7 linked regions of the Homo sapiens genome follow. The protein of the gene in region 1 interacts with the protein of each later gene in a pairwise test. Each region holds a gene or a part of one and is shown in the gene's direction. Other genes may lie near its edges.

Evidence for each region.
Region 2: the proteins of NLRP12 (region 1) and LRRC42 interact in a two-hybrid assay, tested with the Homo sapiens proteins (one large-scale study listed by IntAct).
Region 3: the proteins of NLRP12 (region 1) and FBN2 interact in a two-hybrid assay, tested with the Homo sapiens proteins (one large-scale study listed by IntAct).
Region 4: the proteins of NLRP12 (region 1) and DROSHA interact in a two-hybrid assay, tested with the Homo sapiens proteins (one large-scale study listed by IntAct).
Region 5: the proteins of NLRP12 (region 1) and ALPL interact in a two-hybrid assay, tested with the Homo sapiens proteins (one large-scale study listed by IntAct).
Region 6: the proteins of NLRP12 (region 1) and SOD2 interact in a two-hybrid assay, tested with the Homo sapiens proteins (one large-scale study listed by IntAct).
Region 7: the proteins of NLRP12 (region 1) and PTPRE interact in a two-hybrid assay, tested with the Homo sapiens proteins (one large-scale study listed by IntAct).

Annotation. Positions count from the first base shown.
Region 1 is NC_000019.10:53,807,151-53,811,292, reverse strand, and holds part of NLRP12 (NACHT, LRR and PYD domains-containing protein 12), read left to right. Parts: intron 1-4; coding exon 5-1,706; intron 1,707-3,624; coding exon of another isoform or gene 3,625-3,627; coding exon 3,628-3,798; intron 3,799-4,142. UniProt on the Homo sapiens protein: Plays an essential role as an potent mitigator of inflammation. Primarily expressed in dendritic cells and macrophages, inhibits both canonical and non-canonical NF-kappa-B and ERK activation pathways.
Region 2 is NC_000001.11:53,959,218-53,963,359, forward strand, and holds part of LRRC42 (leucine-rich repeat-containing protein 42), read left to right. Parts: intron 1-1,138; coding exon 1,139-1,257; intron 1,258-2,816; coding exon 2,817-2,905; intron 2,906-3,078; coding exon 3,079-3,192; intron 3,193-4,142.
Region 3 is NC_000005.10:128,331,604-128,335,745, reverse strand, and holds part of FBN2 (fibrillin-2 precursor), read left to right. Parts: intron 1-168; coding exon 169-291; intron 292-450; coding exon 451-576; intron 577-901; coding exon 902-1,027; intron 1,028-2,711; coding exon 2,712-2,834; intron 2,835-4,142.
Region 4 is NC_000005.10:31,511,480-31,515,621, reverse strand, and holds part of DROSHA (ribonuclease 3), read left to right. Parts: intron 1-57; coding exon 58-168; intron 169-402; coding exon 403-634; intron 635-4,142. UniProt on the Homo sapiens protein: Ribonuclease III double-stranded (ds) RNA-specific endoribonuclease that is involved in the initial step of microRNA (miRNA) biogenesis.
Region 5 is NC_000001.11:21,557,281-21,561,422, forward strand, and holds part of ALPL (alkaline phosphatase, tissue-nonspecific isozyme isoform 1 preproprotein), read left to right. Parts: intron 1-3,345; coding exon 3,346-3,465; intron 3,466-3,816; coding exon 3,817-3,932; intron 3,933-4,142. UniProt on the Homo sapiens protein: Alkaline phosphatase that metabolizes various phosphate compounds and plays a key role in skeletal mineralization and adaptive thermogenesis.
Region 6 is NC_000006.12:159,679,407-159,683,548, reverse strand, and holds part of SOD2 (superoxide dismutase [Mn], mitochondrial isoform A precursor), read left to right. Parts: intron 1-910; coding exon 911-1,056; 3' UTR 1,057-4,142. UniProt on the Homo sapiens protein: Destroys superoxide anion radicals which are normally produced within the cells and which are toxic to biological systems.
Region 7 is NC_000010.11:127,909,998-127,914,139, forward strand, and holds part of PTPRE (receptor-type tyrosine-protein phosphatase epsilon isoform 1 precursor), read left to right. Parts: intron 1-4,142. UniProt on the Homo sapiens protein: Isoform 1 plays a critical role in signaling transduction pathways and phosphoprotein network topology in red blood cells. May play a role in osteoclast formation and function.

The DNA of each region.
Region 1 (4,142 bases):
CTAGATCCCCAGGAAACCTACAGGGACTATGTCCGCAGGAAATTCCGGCTCATGGAAGACCGCAATGCGCGCCTAGGGGAATGTGTCAACCTCAGCCACCGGTACACCCGGCTCCTGCTGGTGAAGGAGCACTCAAACCCCATGCAGGTCCAGCAGCAGCTTCTGGACACAGGCCGGGGACACGCGAGGACCGTGGGACACCAGGCTAGCCCCATCAAGATAGAGACCCTCTTTGAGCCAGACGAGGAGCGCCCCGAGCCACCGCGCACCGTGGTCATGCAAGGCGCGGCAGGGATAGGCAAGTCCATGCTGGCACACAAGGTGATGCTGGACTGGGCGGACGGGAAGCTCTTCCAAGGCAGATTTGATTATCTCTTCTACATCAACTGCAGGGAGATGAACCAGAGTGCCACGGAATGCAGCATGCAAGACCTCATCTTCAGCTGCTGGCCTGAGCCCAGCGCGCCTCTCCAGGAGCTCATCCGAGTTCCCGAGCGCCTCCTTTTCATCATCGACGGCTTCGATGAGCTCAAGCCTTCTTTCCACGATCCTCAGGGACCCTGGTGCCTCTGCTGGGAGGAGAAACGGCCCACGGAGCTGCTTCTTAACAGCTTAATTCGGAAGAAGCTGCTCCCTGAGCTATCTTTGCTCATCACCACACGGCCCACGGCTTTGGAGAAGCTCCACCGTCTGCTGGAGCACCCCAGGCATGTGGAGATCCTGGGCTTCTCTGAGGCAGAAAGGAAGGAATACTTCTACAAGTATTTCCACAATGCAGAGCAGGCGGGCCAAGTCTTCAATTACGTGAGGGACAACGAGCCTCTCTTCACCATGTGCTTCGTCCCCCTGGTGTGCTGGGTGGTGTGTACCTGCCTCCAGCAGCAGCTGGAGGGTGGGGGGCTGTTGAGACAGACGTCCAGGACCACCACTGCAGTGTACATGCTCTACCTGCTGAGTCTGATGCAACCCAAGCCGGGGGCCCCGCGCCTCCAGCCCCCACCCAACCAGAGAGGGTTGTGCTCCTTGGCGGCAGATGGGCTCTGGAATCAGAAAATCCTATTTGAGGAGCAGGACCTCCGGAAGCACGGCCTAGACGGGGAAGACGTCTCTGCCTTCCTCAACATGAACATCTTCCAGAAGGACATCAACTGTGAGAGGTACTACAGCTTCATCCACTTGAGTTTCCAGGAATTCTTTGCAGCTATGTACTATATCCTGGACGAGGGGGAGGGCGGGGCAGGCCCAGACCAGGACGTGACCAGGCTGTTGACCGAGTACGCGTTTTCTGAAAGGAGCTTCCTGGCACTCACCAGCCGCTTCCTGTTTGGACTCCTGAACGAGGAGACCAGGAGCCACCTGGAGAAGAGTCTCTGCTGGAAGGTCTCGCCGCACATCAAGATGGACCTGTTGCAGTGGATCCAAAGCAAAGCTCAGAGCGACGGCTCCACCCTGCAGCAGGGCTCCTTGGAGTTCTTCAGCTGCTTGTACGAGATCCAGGAGGAGGAGTTTATCCAGCAGGCCCTGAGCCACTTCCAGGTGATCGTGGTCAGCAACATTGCCTCCAAGATGGAGCACATGGTCTCCTCGTTCTGTCTGAAGCGCTGCAGGAGCGCCCAGGTGCTGCACTTGTATGGCGCCACCTACAGCGCGGACGGGGAAGACCGCGCGAGGTGCTCCGCAGGAGCGCACACGCTGTTGGTGCAGCTGTAAGTATCCCTGGGGTATCCCCTGGGGCTGCTTAGGTTCGTGTGTTTTTTTTTTTTTTTTTTTTTTTTGCTCTGTTGCCTAGGCTGGAGTACACTGGCGTGACCTCAGCTCACTGCAACCTCCGCCTCCCGGGTTCAAGAGATTCTCCTGCTTCAGCCTCCCAAGTAGCTGGGACTACAGGTGCACGCCACCACGCCCACCTAATTTTTGTATTTTTAGTAGAGACAGGGTTTCACCATGTTGGCCAGGGTGGTCTCGATCTCTTGACCTCGTGATCTGCCCGCCTTGGCCTCCCAAAGTGCTGGGATTACAGGCATGAGCCACTGCACCCGGCCCACGATTTTTTTTTTTTTTTTTTTTTAAACTAAGTCTCTCTTGGTCTCCTAGGCTGGTGTGCAGTGGCGCAATCTTGGCTCACTGCAGCCTCTGCCTCCCGGGTTCAAGCGATTCTCCTGCCTCAGCCTCCTGAGTAGCTGGGATTACAGGTGCCCATCACCATGCCAGGATAATTTTTGTATTTTTAGTGGAGATGGGGTTTCGCTGTGTTAGCCAGGCTGGTCTTGAACTCCTGACCTCAAGTGATCCACCCACCTTGGCCTTGAGGTTCATGCTCTTAACCAGTGCCTCTCAGCTGGGGGTGATTTTGCTCTGACATTTGGCGATGTTTGGAGACACGTTTTTGGTGGTCACAACTGGGAAGCAAATAATACTACTGACATCTAGTGGATAAAGGCCGGGAATGCTGCAAACATCCTACAGTACACAGGACAGTCCCTCTGGCCCCAAAGTGTCAATAGTGCCACAAAGACTAAACAACACCCATTGGGACTAAATTGAGGTCGATGTCTGGGAGAATTTATTCAATCAACAAATATTACTAAGTCCCTTTTTCTTGAGAGAGTGTGGCTCTGTCACCAAGGCTGGAGTGCAGGGGCACAATCTCAGCTCACTGCAACCTCCACCTTGCGTGTCTCAGCCTCCTGAGCAGCTGGGACCACAGGAGTGTGCCACCACACCCAGCTAATTTTTGTATTTTTTTAGTAGAGATGGGGTGTCACCATGTTGGCCAGGCTGGTCTCAAACTCTCGGCCTCAGCCTCCCAAAGTGCTGGGATTATAGGTGTGAGCCACCACACCCAGCCTCTATATCCCTTTTATCGGTGGACCCAACAATCTTCTGTAGACAGAAGACTGTGTGAATAAGCCAATGGTCCCAAGAGAGCACGCATCCTAATGAGAACGGAGACAGATAATAAAGAGGGAAACAAGTAAACCAACTATCAATGATTAGGAGCGTCAGATAGAGCCAGGTGCAGCCTGGACAACATGATGAGATCCCCATCTCTAAAAATATAAAATAAATTAGCTGGTCATGATGGTGCACACCTGTAGCCCCAGCTTCTCAGTAGGCTGAGGTGGGAGGATTGCTTAAGCCTGGGAGGTCAAGCCTACAGTGAGCCATGATCTCACCATGCACTCCAGCCTAGACAACAGGGCAAGGCCCTCTAAAAAAAAAAATGAAAAGATAGCATGCTTTGGCCGGATGTGGTGGCTCACGCCTGTAATCCCAGCACTTCAGGAGGTTGAGGCGGGCAGATCACCTGAGGTCAGGAGTACGAGATCAGCCTGGCCAACACGGTGAAACCCCATCTCTACTAAAAATACAAAATTAACTGGGCGTGGTGGCTCATGCCTGTAATCCCAGCTACTCTGGAGGCTGAGGCAGGAGAATCGCTTGAACCCAGGAGGCGGAGGTTGTGGTGAGCTGAGATTGCGCCATTGCACTCCAGCCTGGGCAACAAGAGCGAAACTCCGTCTCAAAAAAGGATAGCATGCTTCATAAACGGTGAAATGACATGCAAAGGCCATAGTTGTCAAGCACCAGTAACACCAGAGAGTGGCCTGTCTTTCCTTCAAGCAGACCAGAGAGGACCGTTCTGCTGGACGCCTACAGTGAACATCTGGCAGCGGCCCTGTGCACCAATCCAAACCTGATAGAGCTGTCTCTGTACCGAAATGCCCTGGGCAGCCGGGGGGTGAAGCTGCTCTGTCAAGGACTCAGACACCCCAACTGCAAACTTCAGAACCTGAGGTGAGTGCAGGCTGGTCTGGGCGTTTCAGGTGGTCCCCACCGTGGCCTCTCATGGGGATCAGTCACAAAGGTTCTATCACGGGATGGTGTATTCGTTGGCTACGGCTGCCATAAAAAAGTGTCACAAAGCCAGGTGCCGTGGCTCACGTCTGTAATCCCAGTATGTTGACAGGTGAAGGCGGGCAGATCACTTGAGGTCAGGAGTTTGAGACCAGCCTGGCCAACATGGCAAAATGCCATCTCTACAAAAAATACAAAAATCAGGAGGGTGTGGTGGCGGGCGCCTGTAATCCCAGCTGCTTGGGAGGCTGAGGCAGGAGAATCGCTTGAACCTGGGAGGCGGA
Region 2 (4,142 bases), on another chromosome or scaffold:
TTGCTACTTTAACTATCAATGAGCTACAATTATAAAGAAAATGAACTATTAAAGACAGCCAAAGAAATTCTTTTCAGGAGTCATGATTTAAAGAAATGGCCCAGTTCATACCATTCACAAATAGTCTGACTGATCTCAGGTTATTCTGGCCAGCAAAGAGGAGGACAGATGGATCCCTCTGTGGTTTTATAAACACCCAGAAGAACAACAGCATTACAAACCTAGGTCTAACCTACTACCTGAGGCCTGCTTCTGACAGTGACACCTACCTACTGCCCCATAAAAAGATGCTGTTGTGTGAGGCTAGCCAGCATCAAGGCTCAGATTTCTTATGTGAAAACGGAGCATATTAATATACCAATTCCAGCTTAGCATCAGATGGATTGGATTATGGGTATACCTTATTAACCCAAACTGAAAATCTAGATTGATAAAGCTGGTTAAATTTAGAGGATTGTTTGCTTTGCAAAAATAATTCTCATAGGAGTTCTTTAGCAGACTTTCCTGACATAGTTAGAATGTTTTTGATTTTCACACCATTTGTCAGAAAAGCAGCTTTTGTTTTAAAGTATATTTATCCCCTAGTGGAAGTCCATTTACCTCATTCAACAATATACCTTTAGTGCCCTCTGCCCTCTGAAATTAGTACTGCATGACACTAAATTAACTCTCACTTGGTAACTGAAATGGCACCAAAAAATCTTTTTTTTTTTTTTTTTGTTAGGCAGGGTCATGTTCTGTCACCTAGGCTGGAGTGCAGTGGTGCAATCATAGCTCACTGCAGCTTTGAAATCCTTGGTTGAAGCCATCTTCCTGCCTCAGCCTCCCAAGTAGCTGGGACCACAGGCACACAGCACCTTGGCTAGCTAATTTTTTAAAATTTCTTGCAGGGATGGGGTCTCTAACTCCTGGGCCCAAGTGATCCTCCAGCCTCAGTCTTCCAAAGTGCTGACATTACAAGCATGAGCCACCATGCCCAGCCCAAAAGAGCTTAACTTTGTTAAATGCATTGGGTATGAAATAGCAAGAGGTAGAGGATATGTTATATTTTTAAATGAAAATGTTGAAAGCATGTTTTTATACCTAGATTGTCTCAAACTCTCTTTGAGTAATTTATGTATGTACTTTGTTTCCCTAGTGTAACTCAGCTCCACCTGAAGGATAATTGTTTATCTGATGCTGGGGTGCGGAAGATGACAGCACCAGTTCGAGTGATGAAAAGAGGCCTTGAGAATCTAACATTATTAGACTTATCATGTAAGTTTTCTTCGAAATTATAGATTATTTTAATGTTGGAAGAATGGCCTTAGAGATCATGTAGTTCTTCCTCTTCATTTTAGAGGTGAGAAAGGAAAGGTGACTTTCCTCGGTGCCATAGAAACTTGGTGGCAGAACAGGATTGAGGCCAAAGACTCTTGACTCCTGGCCAACTGATTTTTCTAGCACATACCACCTCTTTAGGGTAGGAAAAACCCTTACACATTCATCCATGCCACTCGCTGTGTGCAAACAGAGACACCTTTCATCATATTCATTGCATACTTAAAGGACATTTGACTCATCTTTATTTTCCTTGAGTCTCTGATCCTTGGTGTCTGTCAGCTAGGTCCTTTTTTATCAGTGTTTGCCTGATGAAAAGCTGGATGAACGGATAATTTACTCAGATTAACCAGATATTGACTCCAATGGTAAGAGGTTGACAGAGATCATTTACAATTTAACCGAGCATCCATTGACTCTATGGCAGGACAGTATGATGCCAAAAGAATAGAAAGAGCAGTGGTTTGAGGTCTGAGGACCCTTCTTGGTCTACCACTTTTACTACCAGTTATATACCTTCAGACCAGTTATTTAACCACTTTGAGCATTGGTTTTGGCCTTTGTAAAATGAGGATAATAATGAATGTCCTGGCTGGGCGCGGTGGCTCACGCCTGTAATCCCAGCACTTTGGGAGGCCGAGGCGGGCAGATCACGAGGTCAGGAGATCAAGACCATCCTGGCTAACACAGTGAAACCCCGTCTCTACTAAAAAGATACAAAAAATCAGCTGGGCGTGGTGGCCGGCACCTGTAGTCCCAGCTACTCGGGAGGCTGAGGCAGGAGAATGGCGTGAATCCGGGAGGCGGAGCTTGCAAGTGAGCCAAGATTGCGTCACTCACTCCAGCCTGGGTGACAGAGCAAGACTCTGTCTCAAAAAAAAAAAAGAAATAATGAATGTCCTCCCTACCTCCCAGGGAAGTGTATTCATTCAACAAATATTTTTTGAGCATCTACAATGTGCCAGGCACTACGCTTATGGCCTTGAGGACTCAATGCTAAGTGTAGTACTCTCTGACGTGAGAAAGTAATATATAAGAAAGGATTCTGAAAATAATGCAAGTTGGTAAGAGTGGTGATAGTATCTGTGTCTAAGTTCCCTTGAATATCTTTTTAAAATAAATAAATGCTTTTACTTTGGAGGTGAAATGGCCATGAATAAAGTATGATAAACCATTGTAATACATGTTTATGTATGTTTTCATATGGTTCCAAATTAAACCCTTTGGGATAACTACCTGGTTCATTTATTTTTCTGCTCACCCCCAACTCCTAGAAAGTAAGAGCTGTAAAGGATCTTTAGGGATCATTGAGTGTGGCTCTTTTATATTACAAATAGTAAAGATCAGACCTCTGTATTTAATTTACTTTGAAAAGTTTGCCAACTCAAATGTTTTATAGTTTATCATTGCCCGGACGTTTTTCTGAGCTTATTTTTGGTTGTCATTTTAACAGCATTTATATTGTGACAGAATGCTACGTTGTTTTTGACATCTAGGTAACCCTGAGATCACAGATGCAGGCATTGGATACCTCTTTTCTTTTAGGAAACTAAACTGCTTAGATATCTCTGGGACAGGGCTCAAGGTAAGACTTTTGGTTCCTTCTCTCATTTTTCTAGACTCAACAATTTGATATTTTGCCTGTGCTAATTGGTATTTAGAAAGGGCTGGTATTTATGATGGTCTTTATTTACTACTGAAAACAAGTAAGAATTAACCAAATGTATTTGCATTTCTGATCTGTCTCTGCCTCACTAGGACATCAAAACCGTCAAGCACAAGCTCCAGACCCACATAGGCCTTGTTCACTCCAAAGTGCCTTTGAAGGAATTTGATCATAGTAACTGCAAGACAGAGGGCTGGGCTGACCAGGTACTCCAGATTTTTCTTCCTTGCGGTTGATGCAGCTTTTCATCTTAATTCCAAGTGTCTTATCCAACACATTGAATAAACAGTAATCCACTTGGTAGTCCTTGGTTAAATTGTCATCTTCATGTCAAATTGGAGACACTGATGGGCTATAACTGGCCCACGTGCTTAAAGAATTGGCGCCAGACCTTATATCTCATGCTCTGGTCACTAGGTTGTGCCTTATCTTTACTGGACCTAGGAGAAAATGTCATCTTACAGATGACTCAGAAAATAAGTGAATTCTGGCTTGCTACACAAAAAAGCAGTCTGACCCAACTTCAGAAGGACAGATTCTCTTAGTAGTGTGTATATACAGGAGAGAGAATAAACTCCGGTGTCATGCAAATAAAGATTCAAATATGATTCTTCTCTTTGTTTTGGGAAAGTTTCTTACCTCCCACAGCCTTAGTGAGGAGGTGTCTTTCTTGTCCTTCTCTCACTGAGTCTTAACAGTGAGAGAACTTTACTTTGACTTCCTTTTGTCTTGATGGTCTTTCTTCACTTGGTAGAGTACAGACTTAAGTGAGATTCAGAGTCTTCTATGTAAGTTGGAAGTGTGAAAGTAACCAAGTAGGACAGCACAAGTAGATGCCACCTTCCCTGTGGCTGGGGCCTTTCTCCCTTAGATGCTTTTAACCAATGTTTCTTGGTGGAGGCCTAGAGGACCCACCAAACTGTCCTGGATCCCCTCTTAGCTCCAAGCCATAATGCAGGATGGTAGAACTATCCACCTGCTGGATTGTAGCGTCACCTCTCCACAGGTAAGCAGGGAGACTGCTGAGTCGTGTTTCAGAAGCACACTGAGCTTGGTCCAGAACATGCATGATGAAATAATTATCATGGTGCATTGCCAGACAAAGTTTCTAGTGCTGTATGAGACCTAGATGCATCCAGTGGATGTGGGACAGGTG
Region 3 (4,142 bases), on another chromosome or scaffold:
GGAATGCTGCCTAAAATGAAGGTGAAAGAACTAAGAAAGATAATGTTCAATCAACACACATAGTGGGGAGAAAAATTCAAAGCCACATTAGCATTATCTGTTTAAAAAGAAGAAAACTCCTTTTAAGGAAGCAGACCTGACAATGTGGTTGCAATGCTGTTTTCACAGATATTGATGAATGTATGATAATGAACGGAGGCTGTGACACCCAGTGCACAAATTCAGAGGGAAGCTACGAATGCAGCTGCAGTGAGGGTTATGCCCTGATGCCAGATGGGAGATCGTGTGCAGGTATAGAAAGGAAAACACACAGGTTTTGTACATCTAACTAATTTTTTCTTGAAAATATGGCTCCAGATATTACCAAGTGGAACCAGATAGAAAACAAAAACATTTGAGATTGATGAACGACATTTTTATTTTCATTTGATGCTAATTTTGTATCATCAGACATTGATGAATGTGAAAACAATCCTGATATCTGTGATGGCGGCCAGTGTACCAACATTCCTGGAGAGTATCGCTGCCTCTGCTATGATGGCTTCATGGCTTCCATGGACATGAAAACATGCATTGGTGGGTATCATAAGAAAGGATAAACATTTATACACACACATGCACACACACCCACATGCACACACAAGCGTGATAAAAGGAAGGCTTTTTCTGTTGTTATTTTAAAAATTCAAATCATTTTACTAGAACTGTAAAATCTCAGGAAGAATTACTTTTAAAAATGTCTAAAGGCAGGTTGTATATTTATCTATAACACGATGATTTGCGGATGGATTATATTTTAGATCTTGCCTGTGTATTTCAGTATTATGCTATTCAGTGTAGAAGATAGCTTTTAAATTACTGTGATGAGCACATACTAAGATATTGAAAATAAATTTTCTAGATGTCAATGAATGTGACCTAAATTCAAATATCTGCATGTTTGGGGAATGTGAGAACACAAAGGGATCCTTCATTTGCCACTGTCAGCTGGGTTACTCAGTGAAGAAGGGGACCACAGGATGTACAGGTAGGTTTCAAGCTTGTGTTCTCTGTATTTCAACTTCTCAGATGTCAAAGGCCAACTTTCAACATCATTTGTTCTCTGGCATCTCTTAGAGCGGTTACCTGCCACCAGACTGTGACTGTGTGTGTGATGAGTGTGTGACCTATAGGATGTGTGATGGATTTGGCTGGTCTCTGTGGTAGCACGCTGTCTGAGCCACCCACCGTGGGGCTGGCTGTGGGCTGTGACAGAGTGAGTGAGTAGGAGTACAGTCTGGTTCCCATGGCCCTGACCACTTATGGTCGTTCATGCAGCATCAGTCACTTTCTGAGTATGACTGCTGCCCGCTTGGAAGACATTCATGTACAAAGAGCACCAAAAGACCCGAGGATCCCGGTTGCCATTTACCTCTGCACTTCTTTTAAACTAGTAAAAATTAATCAAGTTTCATTGAGACTCTTTCCCTTTCTTCCTTTCTCCCATCTTTTCCTTTCTTGTTTGCTCTTCTGTTTGCTTTTGTCTTCTCTTCTCTGTGCCCAAATTGCCTTTCTCTTTTTCCTCTCTTCACTTTCCTTCTTTGCTCACTTTGCTCACTTTGTCTTTTGTTCCCTTTCTCTACTACTACTACTAACTAGTTTTAGCCTTTTGCATGCAGGTGGGGCTAGGATGTGCCGGGGTCAAGGTTTTGGATCACGTATTCCTCAGTGCACAATTTAAGACTTATGTGTGATATTTTTTCAAGGCAGGTGGTGGAAGACTTAAGAGTCCAACCCAGCCCTTAAGCTGACCCCTCCAGTAAGGGGCAGATTATAAAAGAAGGTGTTCTTTGCATGTTCACCACTGACAGGGTTGATGTGAAGCCAGTAGTGTGTGTGTGTGTGTGTGTGTGTGTGTGTGTGTGTGATTTCAGCATCTATAATATGTAATCGTTGAACTAGATAGAACACATTACTATTTATAGTCAAGAAAGCTTTGGAGAACCAAATCTACATAGGTTATACATACATATATAGGGATATGTGTGTGTGTATACAGACACACAAATACACACACACACACACGCACACACACACACTGGCGAAAGCATCTGGCTACTTTCCAGATAACATTCCCAGTGAATATTTTTCTATAATCTCAAATAAGTAGAAGAAATAAAAATATACACCTAAATGAATAGTTTTTTTTAAATTCTGTAAAATATTTATATTGATTTTTTAAATGACAAATGATCATGTAATTTTAAAGAGAATAAACTATTACTTTTTTTAAAAAGTTAGATTCTTATCTTCATGAAAAATATGTAATAAATATCAATAGGAAGGAATAGCACCATCTATTATTGGAAATAAGATTTCTCTTGATCTGTAATCGAATGTCCTCTTTATGGTGTTGTGTCTGAATCTGGGCAGGGAAGAAGGCCCCAGGATAATACACATACCTGCCGGGGAGCAACACTGCTGTGTCTCTCTCTCTTCTACTGGAAAGTGGCTGACAGTTGTTTCTAGGGAAGAACTTGTTTTATTAGGATCATGAATTTTCCAAGTCCTCTTGGAGCCTACAAAAATTAAAAATAAAAGTTAGTTAGGCTACTCTTTTCTCCATACGGTTGCATCTTTACTTTAAAATGTTACCTATACAAAAATATACTTGGAAGTAGAATTAATTAGTTTGTATTTTGATTTTCTTCTTATGAATTATGGTTTATCAGATGTGGATGAGTGTGAAATTGGTGCTCATAACTGCGACATGCATGCCTCATGTCTGAATATCCCAGGAAGCTTCAAGTGTAGCTGCAGAGAAGGCTGGATTGGAAACGGCATCAAGTGTATTGGTGAGTTTGCAAATGTAAATATCCTTTGCTAAGGCACAAATTTTTAAAGGCTCTTTTTTGCATGGTTGTAGAATCATGCTCTTCACTTTTATTAATTCCTTTATAAAAAGGTTATCTTAGTTGCAAGATAATTCCTGCCTAAGGGTGTCCTTTACCCTTAATATAAATTATCAAAATTTCAACAGTATGCCTTGGCACCTGTTTTTTAATGTGTTTTTGTTCAGTAAAAATTGATATGCAGCTGGTGATCCAAACACAGCTGTATGATGAAAAATGACTAGTATGTTCTTCCAATCTTTTCAAAGAAGTAATCAGTGAGATTTAAAATCCAGTGGAATAAATGGAGAGCAATGAAAAGGTTTTTTCAGATAACCTAATTTTTTAGTAAGTCATCAATACCACCATCTTATTAGAAAATAGAATTCTTCTTACAGGAAATTGTAAATGCTTTCTTGCATTCCAAGAGGTCTTATTTGAAGAAAAAAAATAGGCAAATTCTCCAAGTTTTATGGTTCTTGAGCCAGAGTCTAAGAAGTCTTTTATATCTGAGAGGGAAGGGACTAGAATATACCCTGAGTGTCATTCACAGTTTTGTGTAATATGCTTAGTGTTTCACATGCCTTACAATAAAGCATTTTTCCAACTAGTAAGAATTTCTAGGTCAATTTAAAACAGAAAAGAAAGCAAGCTAAACTCACTTCCCCCTGATAACTTACAAAAAATATATAGGCCCTCAGTAAGGATTAAAGAATAGCTTTAAGATCTCTTACCAAAACTATAAGTTAATTTGAATATATACTTTTTTATCCATTCAAATATTTCATACTTATCAAAAGTTTATGTACTGACTATAGAATTTGAAGTATCAGAGCTTCCAAATAACTGCTAAATAACATCCTGCAATGGCTTAGTGAAGTGCCAGCCTCTAGTCCAGCCATCTTTCCAGGGTTACTATCATAACTTTTCAACCATACCCTCATTCCCATTTTCGTAGCCCCATGTGCCTACTCTTTTTCTCTTTTTGGCCTCCCATTTTTATGCTTCTTGTCCATCTGTCATTTTGGCCAACTATTGCAAAACAGCCTGCCTCTGATACAAGACATTCAGCTGTGTCCAGCCTCCTGTGCTCCAGGATGTCACCCAAATTCATCCTCTCCTTTACATCTTCTTTCCCCTACTCTAGTCCCAACCAGAGAGAGTTTCTGTCTCTCTCACATGCCCTCGCTCTTCGTGTCTGCTGAATGCTAAAAGAATCCCCTCTGGTATGTTGGCTTGTTCCCTCTCTGGCCCTCCTGCAATCCATTCTCC
Region 4 (4,142 bases), on another chromosome or scaffold:
TGAAATTGTCCATATGTGGACATTTCCAAACATTTTGCAAATATCTTTTTCTTTTAGGAGTTACGGTTTATCGGTTGTTCCTGAACCTGCTGGATGCACACCAGAATTACCTGGGGAGATTATTAAAAATACAGATTCTTGGGCCCCACCCCTGGAGATTGTGAATCAGTAAGTAGATCTGGGGTGGGGCCTGGGAATTTGTATTTTTAAACAAGTAAACTTCAGGTGATTCTGATGCCACCAGACTGGTATTTGGGAGTCACTGGTTTAACAAAAGTACACACGGTGATTTGGCATGGTATTCATATTTTAGGTGAAAAATGCACCAAATAGGTGAAATAGAATAGTTTTTACAGTGGAAGAGTATTTTTAATAATTAACCTCCTTTGCCCTCTTTTGAAGTCGCTCCCCAAGTAGGGAGAAGAAGAGAGCTCGTTGGGAGGAAGAAAAAGACCGTTGGAGTGACAACCAGAGTTCTGGCAAAGACAAGAACTATACCTCAATCAAGGAAAAAGAGCCCGAGGAGACCATGCCTGACAAGAATGAGGAGGAAGAAGAAGAACTTCTTAAGCCTGTGTGGATTCGATGCACTCATTCAGAAAACTACTACTCCAGTGACCCCATGGATCAGGTGGTAGGTCTGAAGTAGCAGACAAGCTGTAGACTAGGGCTTCTCGGCGTTGTCACTATTGGCCTTTGGGGCTGGATAAATTCTTGATTGTGGGGACTGCCCTATGCATTGTAGGATGTTTAGCGGCATCTCTGGGCTCTACCTGTTAGATGCCAGTAGTACCCCTCCCCAGTTGTGGTTACCGAAAATGTCTTCAAATATTGCCAAATGTCCCCTGGGGGGAAAAGATCACCCCCAGTTGAGAATCACTGTTACAGACAAAAGCCGTTTTAAAAAGCTAAAAGCCAAGAGTGCAGTAGGTTAATTAAAATATCTTTTTATAATGCATTTTTATTTATTTATTTTTGAGACAGGGTCTCGCTCTGTCACCCAGGCTGGAGTGCAGTGGCACCATCGTGGCTCACTGCAGCCTTGATCTTCCAGGCTCAAGTGATTCTCCCACTTCAGCCTCCTGAGTAGCTGGAACTACGGGGCACGTGCCACCATGACTGGCTAATTTTTTTTTATTTTTTAGTAGAGATGAGGTCATACTATGTTGCCCACTCTGGTCTCGAACTCCTGAGCTCAAGCAATCCTCCTGCCTTGGCCTCCCAAAGTGCTGGGATTACAGGTGTGAGCCACTGTGCCCAGCCTATTCTACATTTTTAATGATACTGGTAGTCTCAGTACTGGTGGTTTCATAAGCTTTCACATGTAACTAGTTTATGCAGTTTGTAGTGTGTATGTGTATGTGTGTGTGTGTGTGTGTGTGTGTGTGTGTGTTTTCTCCAAAATGAAAAATAAGGAAGAATTTGAGTTTGTCTCTTCGAAGTGTATCCTTGACCAAAAGAGCACCAACCCTACGAAGTTGCCCATGCATATTGGCTAGTTTTGCAGAAAGGGAGAGCCATTGTCACCCTTAATGGGCTGGAGGGAGGACTCCTAGAGCACATGCTGCCAGGGCCGGGGCGCCTGTGGTGCTACAGCCGGCGTGCTCATTGCCATGACAGACTCCACCACTATTTCTACATGCTCACTTCTCTTTTCTTTCTTCCATCTCCATTTTATTTTCTGTCACTGTCACCTTTTTGCTCTCTCTTCCCCTCTTCCCCCTAGGCGTTATGCCTCCATCCTGTTAGGCATATTTGCCACAGAGTAGGCATGTTGTAATGTTCATTGATTAAATGAATGAGTGGACATCTCATTCATTTAATTAATGAACTCGTGCAGATTTCGGGCATGAAAAGTTGCAGATGTTAGATTTAGTGTATGGGATTAGATAAGAGATAAGAGAGAGTTGTGTTATTTGGAATTTTGTGAAAATAGCTTCTATTTGGACTCGTATCTGTGGGGAGCTTGAAAGGAGATTTCTGTGTTTTTGGAAACAAAGGATTTGAGAAGTCTCTCATAGTGGTGTGATATTTTATTTGATAAATTAGAGCAGGCTTTTAAGTCATAGTTGATGTGGTACAGGGAAGGGAAAGCTCACATACTGTGCACTTTACGGTGCCTGAATGTTATTCCATGCTTCTCATGTTGTCTTAGTTGACCCTGAAAACACCCCTGGCAAGAAGGTGGTTCTGTCCGTTAGAAATGCTGCTAGGAGTAATAACACCTGACTAAGTGGGACTTAAACAAGCTGGGTTTGTTCTTCTCATAATAAGGTACCTGGAGGGAGGCCATGGCTGGTGTTCACTGAGTGGCTCAGTGATGGCAGGCCCTGCTGTCTTCCTGAGCATCTTCCACAGTTGCAGGATGATGCAGGACTAGCAGGCCTCAGGTCCTTACACACCCGCATCCTCACACGCAGGATGCAGAGGGCATGTTGGGTGAGCATTCTTCTAGTGTCTTGCCCGAGCTCTCCTTTCATCCCTTGACTCCCCTTCCATCCCTTTACCAGAGCCATGTGACATGCCTACCCCAGGGATTCATTTTTCCTTACTGCCATGACAGAGTTCCACAAATGGCATGGCTTGAAACCGCACACATTTGTCATCTCACAGCTTGGGAGGTCAGAAGTCCAGCATGGGCCTCACTGGCTCCATCAGGATGTCAGCAGGTCTGTGCTCCTTTATGGAGGCTCTGGAGAAAATCTGTTTTCTTGCTCATTCAGGTTGCTGGCAGAGTTCAGTTGCTTGTGTCTGGAGGACAGAGGACCTTGTGTCCTTGTTGGCTGTCAGGTGTGGGCACTTCTTGGTTCCTCCAGGCCATGTGCATTCCTTGACTTGTGGATCCCTTCCTCTGTCTTCGAAGCCAGCAATGGTGGTCGAGTCCTTCTCGTGTTTTGAATATCTCTTGCCTCTTTTTCTGTTGTATCTCTGACCCCTGTTGGCAAAGGTTCCCTGATTTTAAGGATTCCTGTTCTAAGATTGGGTCCACCCAGCTGCAAATCCTTTTTGCCATGTAAGTTAACATATATATTTAATTTCTGGGGATTAGGACATGGACATCTTTGGGAGGGGCTGGTGGCTCAGCCTACCTTCCCAGAGATCAGGAGTTCTCTTCTCCAAATCTTACAGAATCCTGCTTCTATTAGGAAGAAGGGAAGAATGGCTGCCATAGGTGTTATTATTCTTAAAACAATAAAGATGAAGACACTGAAGTTCAGGGAGTTTAAACAGGCAGGGCTGGTTGTTTTTTATTACATCGTTATGAGTATATTAAAACTCCAGTGTAGGAGGAAGACTGATAAACTCAAAAGGCTGACATTTGCCTTTGAGTTTTGTCGTCTGTGTGGTGCAGAGAAGGTGGTGAGAATGTCAAAGCTATACCGGCATCGCCACTCCCAACAATGAGATGGGGCCTGAATTATCCCCTCTTCTGGGTACCAGATTTTATGATTTGCCTTAATTTTACATTTGACAGGTCTGGTTTTTACATTTTAAGGCTACTAAGTCAGAGTGTGGAGATGTAAAGTGATTTTCAACCTGGAAATTGAGTGAGGAAAAGTGGAAAATTTTCTCTAGGAATCTGTTGCAGAGTCCCGTGTTTGTGGTATGTGTTTGTGTGTGTGTGAGAGAGAGTGTGTGCATGTTTATGTCCTCGTGTTTAAGGCATGAGAGTGTGTGTGTGTGTGTGTGCGTGTGTGTGAGAGAGAGAGAGAGGGGATATATAGGATATTTCTTATTGCTCGATGGATTGATATAGGAGAAGATAGGTTATCAGTGATTTTCAGTAGGAAGTGTACATTCCCTATGAGGGTATTTGATGTCAGTTGTCATGATTCTCTGAGGGTCATGATTTTTTAAAAAATGTCATATTAATAGGGCATAGATGAACTGTTCTAATGTTTCTTTTCTGTTTTTTTTTTTTTAGATGAGGTCTCTCTATGTCACCCAGGCTAGAGTATAGTGGCACAGTCATAGTCATAGCTCACTGCATCCTCCAACTCTTGGGCTCAAACAGTTCTCCTGCCTTAGCCTCCCAGGTAGCACAGGCACACACCACCTGGCTAATTTTTTTCTTTTTCATAGAGGTGGGGTCTTGCTATGTTGCCCAGGCTGGTCTTGAACTCCTGGCCTCGAGCAATCCT
Region 5 (4,142 bases), on another chromosome or scaffold:
GTCACAGTGTCTGGCAAGGAGTGGATGCTCAGTGAATGTTGGTCTCTTCTCTTAGGACGGCTGTATTTCAGCAGATGAGGAGATGGGGTGCAGTGGGGCACTGAGCCTGAGCTGCTGAGCTCTCAGGCCATTGCTGCGTCTGAGACCTCGTGGTGCCATTTGCATCCCTGGGGGACCAAGGTCACTCTGGGACGGGGTCCCTGCCTTCTCAGCACTTACAGCCCACCTGGGTGAAAGATGAACTAATGGATGAAAAGGGAAAAGGTGAAAAAGTGACAACATGAAAAATCTTCAAACGTTCAGCAGTTCAACTTTTTGTATCTGCTGTTGCCAGGCTGGAGTGCAGTGGCACAATCATGGCTTACTGTAGCCTCAAACTCCTGGCCTCAAGCAGTCCTCCCACCATGGCCTCCAAAAGTGCTGGGATTACAGGATGAGCCACTTCTTCAGCCTTCTTTTTTTTCTTCAATTAGATATAACTTACAGAAAAGGGCACCGATCTTAAATACATAGCCTGAAAAAATTTTGACATATATTTATACCCATGTAACCGCCACCCAGATCAAGACAGAACATTTCTGGTTGTGAGGCATCTGTGGGCTTCCCTGTGCCAACCCCCTCCCAAAGCCAGAGGAGATGCCCAGGCTTACATTGGCCACCAGAGACTTGCTTTGCCTGTTTTGAGCCTCATATAAATGGAATCATATAGTATGTACCGATCAGTGCCCTTTCCCTGGCATTCTATCGTGAGCATTAGCACATATCATTTAGTAGTCTCCAAAAACAATAGCCTCTTGGAATCCAGTTGTCCAGAGCCATTGTTGCTTAAACCAGACTCCAAACCCTTCTCAGGGACAGGCCCTGGGTGGCTCTGGTGAAAAAGACAAGGACTCTGCCCTTGTGGGACTCCAGTCTAGAGAGAACAAGCACTCAACGGAGCAGGGGACCCGGTGGCAGAGGCTGGGCTGAACAAGGGCAACAGGTGTGGGGCGGGCTGATGTCAGCCCAGCCCTGGGACCTCCAAGCTGTTAAGTCAGGTACAGGTTGTAGCGGGTCAGGGTGGGTAGAAGGTCTTCACCACCCAGTGGCACCCAACTGGCCAAAGAGGCTCTATGACCAACAGCACCGTGGTGTGTTTTGAGGAAGGCAGGAGGGAGGCTGGAACCAGCCTGGGCCTGGGGGACCTCTGAGGAAAACCTCTGGCCCCGGCCTTGCCCAGACTTTATCTCATGTCATCCTAGAACTGCCTGTGGATAGCTACGGGTGTCCCATTTCCTGGGGCAGAAACTCTTGTCCAAAGGCACCCTGTCGGGCAGAAGGGCCAAGGTGCTCCCAATTCCCAGTGGGGACTGCGTGGGGACATCTGAAATTGATGCCCTCAGCAGACACTTCCAGAAGAGAGAGGGTGGACCTGGGGCTGTCGGGATGAGGGTAGTGGGCTGAGGGATTGGGGTGGTGGTGACGTAAGGGGAGGCCTCTTGGGGAGGGGCGTGGGGTGTGCTTGGGTCCAAAGCTAGAGGTGCACTGCAGCACCCTGGCGGCTCCTCGCCTGTGCTCTGCGCCTATGCTAGGCTGGGGCAGAGCCACGGCGACGCGTGAGTTTCCGGTTCTCCCACTTGGGGCCCTAATCTCAGGCTCTCCATTTCCTAATGTGGAGGAGACACTGGTGCCCACCTGCCAAGGCAGTTGAGAGGAATAAGAGAAGCTGTGTGGGGGGTCCCTGGCATCTCGCCCAGAGCCAGTGCGTGTGTGAGGAAGGAGGGCTGTTCTTTACCCACGGCCACTCCGAGAGCCAGGCACGCGTCGGAGCTGGGCCAAAAGATGAGAATTGTGTCCCCAGCCCACGAACATGCTACACGGCCTTGGACAAGACCCTCCCATTCCTGATCTCTCCTCCCGTTCTGTGCAGTGGGAGGCCTTGAAAGAGGAAACCGCTAGGGAGCCTCCTCTCTAGGCTTCTGAGCAGATCTGATAGGGCCCTGGGACAGAGGGGAGCCCCGCAGACTCTGGGAGGGACTCCAGCTCCCATAGCCAGGGTCCTGGTCCAGCCCTGGAGACGGGATAATGGGGATGGGAGGCAACTTTTGAGCCTCTCCTGTGGGTCAGGTGTGTCACTTGCCTTATCCGGCCCAGTCCTTAGAGCGACCCTGAGGGGATGATGCCAGCAATGTCATTTAACAGGGGAAGAGACTGAGGCTGAGGGAGGTGACAGAGCTAGTACTTGGAGCAGCTGGGGGTTTTTTGTTTGTTTGTTTTTGAGACGGAGTCTAGCTCTGTCACCCAGGCTGGAGTGCAGTGGTATGATCTCAGCTCACTGCAACCTCCGCCTCCCGGGTTCAAGCAGTTCTCCTGCCTCAGCCTCCTGAGTAGCTGGGACTACAGGTGCACACTGCCACGCCCAGCTAATTTTTCATATTTCAGTAGAGACGGGATATCACCGTGTTGCCCAAGTTGGTCGCGAACTCCTGAGCTCAGGTGATCTGCCTGCCTCGGCCTTCCAAAGTGCTGGGATTACAGGCATGAGCCACCATGCCCAGCAGCTGGGGTTTTAATTGAGGTCTGTCTGGCACTAAAGCTGTGGATTGGTTGCTGGACACACACACACATGAGAAAGAGGGAGAGAGAAAGAAGTGTTCTTAGTTCTCATTTTATCTCAAAACCATAAAGCCCCAGCCAGAAGTCACTATCAGCCAAGAGGGATGGAGGGGGCGATGAGAGATGCAGAATGTCGTCCTTGATAACTAATCCTAACAAGAGTGAGATCACCTGGCTCCTTTAAATTTGACATATTAAGCAAAAGGCAAGCTTCGCTTTCCAGCACTGCTATTAAACCAAGTCAGGTTCCTGCTGAGCCTACTTTAATGAATAAGCTAAGCAGAGTTGATAATTGATGGCTGGCTATATCAGGGGACCCCTTCTGCTGGAAGGAGTTTGTTGAATAGGTTAAACATTACTCTCTTAATTGTGCTAGCACAATTCATTTGCTGCCTTAGCAGCTCATCTCCCTACTGGGTAGAAGGAATGAGCATGGGCTTTGGAGCGAAACCCAGCCCTGCCAGTGTCTGCCTGTGCTGTGTGGCCTTAGGCAAGTTGCTCGTTGTCTCTGAGCCTTGGTTTCTTCATTCTGAGATGTGAGGAGAAGACCCCAGGGTCCACAGGCTTTTCTGGAGGATCTGGATGGCACATATTTATAAACCACAGATGTGTTGTCTGGGTGGGCAACTATTGCACCCACCTCCAAGTTCAGGCATTCCAGCCTGAGCAATCAGAAGTGGGGGGATCTGTACGTCTGGAGATAGGAGGCTATCCTTACCCCGCCAAGTAACTGCCTCTCTCTGTGTTTAGAGAAAGAGAAAGACCCCAAGTACTGGCGAGACCAAGCGCAAGAGACACTGAAATATGCCCTGGAGCTTCAGAAGCTCAACACCAACGTGGCTAAGAATGTCATCATGTTCCTGGGAGATGGTGAGGCCCAGGGGCCTGTGGGAGGGGTGGAACAGGACACCTAGCTAGGAGCCCCGGGAGCCAGGCTGAGTTGAAGGGGGCTGTGTTGAAGGGGCTAGGGCTCTGGAGGAAGGGTGTTTAAAAGGATGAGGGGCCAGGCTGTGGATTCAAGAGGCCTGCTCTGCCAGACAGCCCCCTGAGGATCTGGGGGTGAAGGGAGAGAGGGGCTGCTCACTGACATTTACAGAGCCATGCCCAGTGCCAACTGCCCGAGCCTGCCTTGGTACCGAACTAGAGAGCTTCTGGGTACCCAAGCAGGCTGATTGGAGAGGCAGGAGCACGAGAGACTGAGGCCCCCACTCCCCACTGCAGGGATGGGTGTCTCCACAGTGACGGCTGCCCGCATCCTCAAGGGTCAGCTCCACCACAACCCTGGGGAGGAGACCAGGCTGGAGATGGACAAGTTCCCCTTCGTGGCCCTCTCCAAGGTGAGCCCCATCCCCAAGCCCAGTTCAGGTCTGTATATCCAGTATCCAGGTCGAGCATCTGAACATGACAGCAGCCAGAGGTCCCCTGACCCCCTGAGCCCCCTCCATGCCCAAGCCCACTCCCCACCTGGAGCAGCCACTGCCCTGACTTCTGACACCATAGCATCACTGTACCTGCTTGCGGGTGTGTGTTTAGAGAGAGGGTCTTGC
Region 6 (4,142 bases), on another chromosome or scaffold:
ATACTGGTTAAGAATTGTTTTTGTAGAGAGAGCTATAATTTATTTTGAGTGTTTTTGTGTGTGCGTGATGGAGTCTCACTCTGTTGCCCAGGCTGGAGTGCAGTGGCGCAATCTTGGCTCACTACAACTTCCGCCTCCCAGGTTCAAGCAATTCTCCTGCGTCAGCTTCCTGAGTAGCTGGGATTACAGGCGCCTGCCACCTCGCCAGGCTAATTTTTTGTATTTTTAGTAGAGGCGGGGTTTCACCATGTTGGCCAGGCTGGTCTCGAACGCCTGACCTCAAGAGATCTGCCTGCCTCGGCCTCCCAAAGTGCTGGGATTACAGGCCTGAGCCACTGCGCCCAGACCAAAAGTTTTTTTAAATGGATGTTTTACAGATAGAACTAAATTCTTCATTTACCTCACTTAATTTCTGAAAACACTGTGTCCTCCAACTGCTCTGTATTCCCAAAGATTAAAATTAGCCTTGGGGAGCAGAGCTGGTTCCTCGTAAACCCCTGTGAGTGCCCAGACCCTTTGGAGGAGGTTCTCAGTGGGCTTTTGCCTGCTCCCACAGATGTAACCCACCCTTCCTGCTGCTCCTAAGACCACCATGAGGAAGGCTGGGAATTGGCTCTTGAATTAATTTGTTGGTATTTTTAAGAATAGCTATTAAAGTACTGTTGTTAATTTTCCCAAGTCTATTTTATTGTTAGTATTTGTCACATTTTCTTTGTAAACAGTGAATTAAAAATATTTTATAGGAATATTCATTCTTATCTAGATTTCCTACTTATATAAAAAAACAAGTGAATGAGATTGTTACAAAGGGTAATTTTGTGTGAGTAGAATAATAAAAGTTGAAATTGAGAAGATGCAATGTTTTAGACTGAAACTGATGGTTGGTTTGTTTTCCCCTTCTTTCTAACAGGCCTTATTCCACTGCTGGGGATTGATGTGTGGGAGCACGCTTACTACCTTCAGTATAAAAATGTCAGGCCTGATTATCTAAAAGCTATTTGGAATGTAATCAACTGGGAGAATGTAACTGAAAGATACATGGCTTGCAAAAAGTAAACCACGATCGTTATGCTGAGTATGTTAAGCTCTTTATGACTGTTTTTGTAGTGGTATAGAGTACTGCAGAATACAGTAAGCTGCTCTATTGTAGCATTTCTTGATGTTGCTTAGTCACTTATTTCATAAACAACTTAATGTTCTGAATAATTTCTTACTAAACATTTTGTTATTGGGCAAGTGATTGAAAATAGTAAATGCTTTGTGTGATTGAATCTGATTGGACATTTTCTTCAGAGAGCTAAATTACAATTGTCATTTATAAAACCATCAAAAATATTCCATCCATATACTTTGGGGACTTGTAGGGATGCCTTTCTAGTCCTATTCTATTGCAGTTATAGAAAATCTAGTCTTTTGCCCCAGTTACTTAAAAATAAAATATTAACACTTTCCCAAGGGAAACACTCGGCTTTCTATAGAAAATTGCACTTTTTGTCGAGTAATCCTCTGCAGTGATACTTCTGGTAGATGTCACCCAGTGGTTTTTGTTAGGTCAAATGTTCCTGTATAGTTTTTGCAAATAGAGCTGTATACTGTTTAAATGTAGCAGGTGAACTGAACTGGGGTTTGCTCACCTGCACAGTAAAGGCAAACTTCAACAGCAAAACTGCAAAAAGGTGGTTTTTGCAGTAGGAGAAAGGAGGATGTTTATTTGCAGGGCGCCAAGCAAGGAGAATTGGGCAGCTCATGCTTGAGACCCAATCTCCATGATGACCTACAAGCTAGAGTATTTAAAGGCAGTGGTAAATTTCAGGAAAGCAGAAGTTAAAGGCAAAATTGTAAATCAGTCGAGATCGGGTGCCTTCAGGGTGGTATGGCTGTATACCAAAATTGTAAATCACTACATGAAGCTTATATATTGGTTTGGCCTGAAAGGTGAAGTGGGGTAGGCAGGGGGCGGGCTTACAGGTTATGGTGGATTCAAAGACTCCCTGATTTGTGATTGGTTAAGGAAGCAAAGCTTTGTCTAAAAACTTGGGGTCCGCAGAAAGGAACATTAAGGTCTGGCCAGGCCCCTCAGGAAGAAACTGAGAGCAAAGAATGGAGGTCAGAGTTTAGTCCCTGGTGTTCCCCCTTATCTGACGTCTGTGTGAATCCATTTGGTGGGGGTCTGGGTTTCTGAAAAGTAGCTCAGGGGCACGTGTTAAGGATGTCTCTAGGTGACTCTAACTTCCCTGGCTATTGTTTGAAACTGTTATGACCTTCTTGCTTATCAGCTTGCTGGTTTCCTTCTCGGGGCGAGCTGGGTGCCTGGAGTTTTCGGTGAAGGAAACTCAAGATTCTCCTTTATTTCTGTGCTTGTGGGAATCCCCCTGGCACACCCCAAAGAGGGGTCCCTGCTCCGTCTCACAGGGATCTTTTTGTATATTTGGCTTAGCATCATACATTTGCCATGTTGTTTCATCATCTGCCTAATTTACTGTTTTTGAATATTTCATTTGTTTCTAATTGTTACTACAGATAATGCTGGGGTGAGCAACTCTGTGTACATAGGTTTATCTCCTATTGGAATATTTTCTTTATATAGGCGTTTTTTTTTTTTCTTTTTTTTTGGAGACAGAGTCTTGCTCTGTTGCCCAGGCTGGAGTGCAGTGGCGCGACCGGAGCTCACTGCAACCTCCACTTCCCGGGTTCAAGTGATTGTCCCACCTCAGCCTCCTGAATAGCTGGGATTACAGGTGCATGCTACCATGCCTGGCTACTTTTTGTATTTTTAGCAGAGACAGGGTTTCACCATGTTGGCCAGGGTGGTCTCGAACTCCTGACCTCAAGTGATCCGTCTGGCTCAGCCTCCCAAAGTGCTGGGATTACAGGTGTGAGCCACTGCACCTGGCCTATATAGGCTTTTTTCTTAAACCTATTTAGTAATGTTTTCCCAAGTTTATTTTTTATTTTTAATTTTTTCCCCAAGTTTATTTTTCTATTTTTTTTTCATGGAAAAATGGGGTAACTTAGCAGTTTCAATATTGAAGACTGAAGTTTAAAAAAAATTTAAATTCAAGGTACTTTTAAAATTCAGTTAGAAAAGTAGGCTTTAAAAATTATTAGAGACAAGAGTACCAAAGCGGTGTGTGTATGTGTGTGTGTGTATGCATGCTTGTGGATTGGAAAAACTTTGGAGACTGATTACTTTTCATTATATATGTGTCACAGTGAAACAGCTTTTATGTGTCATGTAAGATTACTGCTTGCCTCTCTAAGGAAGGTCGTGACTGTTTAAATAGACGGGCAAGGTGGAACCTTTTGAAAGATGAGCTTTTGAATATAAGTTGTCTGCTAGATCATGGTTTGTATTGAACTAACAAGGTTTGCAGATCTGCTGACTTATATAAAGCTTTTTGATTCCTACTAAGCTTTAAGATTTAAAAAATGTTCAATGTTGAAATTTCTGTGGGGCTCTATTTTTGCTTTGGCTTTCTGGTGAGAGAGTGAGGAAGCATTCTTTCCTTCACTAAGTTTGTCTTTCTTGTCTTCTGGATAGATTGATTTTAAGAGACTAAGGGAATTTACAAACTAAAGATTTTAGTCATCTGGTGGAAAAGGAGACTTTAAGATTGTTTAGGGCTGGGCGGGGTGACTCACATCTGTAATCCCAGCACTTTGGGAGGCCAAGGCAGGCAGAACACTTGAAGGAGTTCAAGACCAGCGTGGCCAACGTGGTGAAACCCTGTCTCTACTAAAAATACAAAAATTGTTTAGCTCTGTTTTTCATAATAGAAATAGAAAAGGTAAAATTGCTTTTCTTCTGAAAAGAACAAGTATTGTTCATCCAAGAAGGGTTTTTGTGACTGAATCAGCAGTGCCTGCCCTAGTCATAGCTGTGCTTCAAAAACCTCAGCATGATTAGTGTTGGAGCAAAACAAGGAAGCAAAGCAAATACTGTTTTTGAAATTCTATCTGTTGCTTGAACTATTTTGTAATAATTAAACTTTGATGTTGAGAAATCACAACTTTATTGTACACTTCATTGCAACTTGAAATTCATGGTCTTAAAGTGAGATTTGAATTTCTATTGAGCGCCTTTAAAAAAGTAATACCAAACCATAAAGTTAAAATCTATGTATATTGAGTCATATCTAAAA
Region 7 (4,142 bases), on another chromosome or scaffold:
AGCAGGGAGGGAACAGGATCGAAGCTGCCCCGTATTCCCTTGCTAGACAAGTCTTTTTCATTTATAACATTTGAGTCACCCTCACAGAAGTTCTGTTGCCAAAGCAGGAATGAATGTATCCATTAGGGTAAAGACTGGCCTTCTTAATATTTGAATATCACTTGGGAAGAAAACTACAGTTCTAAGAACATCTCTAGTTTTTCTTTTGGCTTTCTTCCTACTGACCCAATGGCTTTGTCTTCCATAAAGCTCCCAAAGCTTTCCAGATCCCAAGACTCAGCTCCCTGCTCTCAGCCTCCTTCCCCTTTATTTCCATCTTAGAAACTCCTACCCATACCTCAAGGCCCACCTCAAAAGTCTCAGTCTCCACAAAGCCTTCCTGGCTCCCCTACCTGAGAGGAATCTCTCTTACTCTTGGTTCCATAGAACGTTATTTCTGCCTGTCCTAAAGCACTTACTGGACTTGACTTTGATTTCCAGTTCACTTGCTCAAGTAGTTTATCTCCTCCACTAGGCAGCCAGTGCTTTAAGGGTGGAGGGTGTGTCTCTGAGAGCATGTACTTTGGGTTCAGTCAGTCAAGTTCTGACTCTGGTGTGACCTTGGCTAAATGACTCAAAATGCAGGCTTCAGTGTTCTCTAGAATGGGAGTAATCATCGCTACTTCCCAGGGCTGCTGCTGTGAGGGGGACATAGGATACATATAATTGACAGGCCGCTTGGCTGGTATGCAGTAAACTGTGGTTATCTTTCCCCTACAACATCTAATGCTGTGCATTGCACATGTAAGAATCAGTGAAGTTTGAGGCCGGGTGCAATGGTTCACACCTGTAATCCCAGCACTTTGGGAGGCTGAAGCACGCAGATCACTTGAGGCCAGGAATTCCAGACCGGCATAGGCAACATGATGGAACTCTGTACCAAAAACACAAAAAAATTAGATGGGCATGGTGGTGCACACCTGTAGTCCCAGCTACTCAGGAGGCTGAGGTGAGAGAAACATCTGAGCCTGGGAGGTCAGGGCTGCAGTGAGCCATGTTCACACAACTGCACTCCAGCCTGGTTGACAGAGAAAGACCCTGTCATGGAAAAAAAAAGAATCAATGAAGTTTGAATGAATACATGAACCAAGCCAAAAACCATACAAATAGATAGATACCTTTTGTGCATCATCCAGATCAGTAGGTCAAATCAGTGTGGTGTGGCATGCCAGATAATTTTTGCATGGCAATCTAAATGATTATTATGTAAATTTTGCGTGATTAAGTATTTTAATCCCATAATGTTATCACTTACCATGAAGGCATTCATTCTTCAATATGCACCATTGACTCCAGTGATCGATGAGGCAGAAATGCAACTTGCTGTGCACATTAACCAGGCTCGTGGCCTGAATTAAACCAGGCTGGGTGTGAGGCACTGCAAAAGCAAACGAAACCCACCCCTGAGAAGCAGTGTGGCCTAGAATCAGGTGTCTGGAATCAGGGTAAGAGAGCAGCTTCTAGACCAGAACATAAAGCTAGGAAGCTGTGGCCTACCCTAGAAACTCTCAGAACTTCACTTTGCTTATCCAAAGAAAGGGGCTGTCCTGGGCCATCTCTGGGCCCCTCACAGCTGCTGCACTTCCGCCCGATTTCACCCCTTCCCCACCACTGGGCAGGAAGGGCTGCTGACTCCGTACAAGGCTGGATCCCAGGCAGGGAGGCCTCCTGTTTCTTGGCTCAGCATTTGGGCCACGTGTCTCTCTGCTCTGGACACCAAATCTAGAGAGAGTGAGGAGAGGCCCGTGGGTACATGTAGCGTGCTGCCAATTTTAGGTACTGGCCCTAGACATATCAAGAGTTTATTTTGGAGGATTAACTTCTCATTATTTTGTCACTAGGATTTTTTTTTTTCACCAAAAGCAGAGTGCTGGATGATATTTTAGATGGCTGGGATTTTAGATCAGCCATACCTGAGGCAATAAGAGTTGGTCGAATGTTACCAATCCTTGAGCAGACACAGATGAGCAGTTGCGGGGTCGTTCGCTGCTGGATGTGGGCTAGGAGACCCCTGGTTTGGGGATTATGAAGGCAGCCTCCTTTTCTTCCCTGGGCTCTGGCTGCTGTTTTCCCAGTCATACCCATCATGGTCTGCCCTGTCCAGGTGTTCCATGTGGGGAGTATTGATGTGGTGCCCAGCCTTTGAACTGTTAACAACACCCTGCTCACAGCCAGAAATGTGGGCCCCACATCTTTCTTTCAACTGTATGAATACTTCAGAGGCTTTGATTGAGCTTAAGAAATACAAATTCTTAACAATATATTTCAGAAAAATAAACATATCCTTTTATATTGATTCCCAATGAAATAGGGGCCAGATAAAATATTTTAAAAGGGCATCTGTTTTTAAAAATATCTTTCAAATGCAATCAAGAATGTTCAGTTAATCCGGTCCATTATGTATATTGTAACAAGTAACAAAAGGGGCAGAGAAATCTTTCTCCCAAAAACAAATATAAAGTCCAGCAGGGAGTAGGGAAATGTTTGAAGAAAAAAAAAAGATTCTTAGTTATGTGCTAAAAACCAAACGTGTTTTGGGCAGGTGCTTTGATGTTAGTGTTTGTTGGGTGGAGAGTAAAGAATTGATAGGAAAACTTGTTTGGATCCCAGGTCTGGGTGCCAGCTACACTACATTTGATCCAATGGAAGGGCTAGCATGGGAACAATAGCATTTGGTGTGAGCGCCCTGGGCAGGTACATGACTCTGTCGTCAGCTCCCAGGGATGGACAGCCAGTCCCACAATGCCTGGAGCTCAGAGCTCACTCTGTGCATGTATGTGACATGGAGAGATGGATGGATGAAGGTAATAGAACTGAGTAGGAGCCTGTCCAGGTAGCAGTGGAGGAGGCCAAGTGGCGGAGGCCTTCCCTGCCATGATTTTACTCTGTCTGAATACCAGCAGCAAGTGGAAGCCACGGGGCTTTATTTTCAAGGGAGGTGACACAGCCTGGGGCTCAGGGAAAGGACTTAGGAGCAGAATGACTGGGATCAGATGGGGGCCCATGAGACTGAGGCTCTGGACAAGGCAAGGGACTTCCCCTGGCCCAGTGTGAGCCCAAGTCTTTACGGTGGGGAGCATGATGCCGCCAAGGCAGCTGCACGGGGATCGGTGGAGGTGGTACGCAGAGGCCTGGCCCCATGATCACCAAAGGGCCAGCGGTCTCACACAAGGCAAGGGCCCAGGGGACCGGAATCAAAGGCCTGAGATGATGTGAGCCCTGACTTCTCCTCTGCCACAGTCGCTTTGTCCTCAAGGCAAGTCATTTAATTCCTATTCAATAAATGCACAAACATAATTTTTGGTTATTAATGTCCCTAAATCTGTTTGGACATTTCCAGCTGAACATTAGTCACCAGTTTTGTACTAGAGAGAAAATTAGTTCCATCTTTCTTCTCAACTGAGATTTTTAAATGTCCTATCACATAGCTACTTGATTACAGTGTATTATTTTAAATGACCTCTGTACTAAGTCCTTTTATTTTGGCGTCCTCTCACTCCAGAAGGACTTGGCATTGGCATTTTTCAGGCTGTGTCTCCACAGTAGGACTTTCATAGGTCTGCGGTGCAGACTGGTTTGCTGTCCACAGGCTTGGCCCTGACTCCTCGGCTAACATGCACAAGGGCGCTCTGAGGGTCGGGAACGCACCCACCAAGCACAGCCCAGACGAAATGGAAGCTCCTGTCCAGGCAGGTTCCCGGTGAAACTCTAGGGAGCTCCAGCCTTCCTTTCTTCTCCAGTTTATTAAGAGGCTGGCCTCAGAGGTGGACACCTACTTCCACAATTTGATGTCCGACCCTGGGACTCTCCTCTTTACCCTGCCCCCACCTCATCCACCAGCCTTTTGGTCTGAAATCCTTGTCATGGGGTAAAGCTTTTTATTCTGTTGTTGGAAACACAGTATATGGTTTGGCTGTGTGTCCCCTCCAAATCTCATGTTGAAATGTGGTCCCCAGCGTTGGAGGTAGGGCCTGGTAGGAGGTATTGGATCATGGGGGCAGGTACCTCATGATTACTAGCGCCATCCCTTTAGTGATGAGTGAGTTCTTGCTCAGCTAGTTCACATGATATCTGGTCATTTTAAAGAATGTGGCACCCCCCAC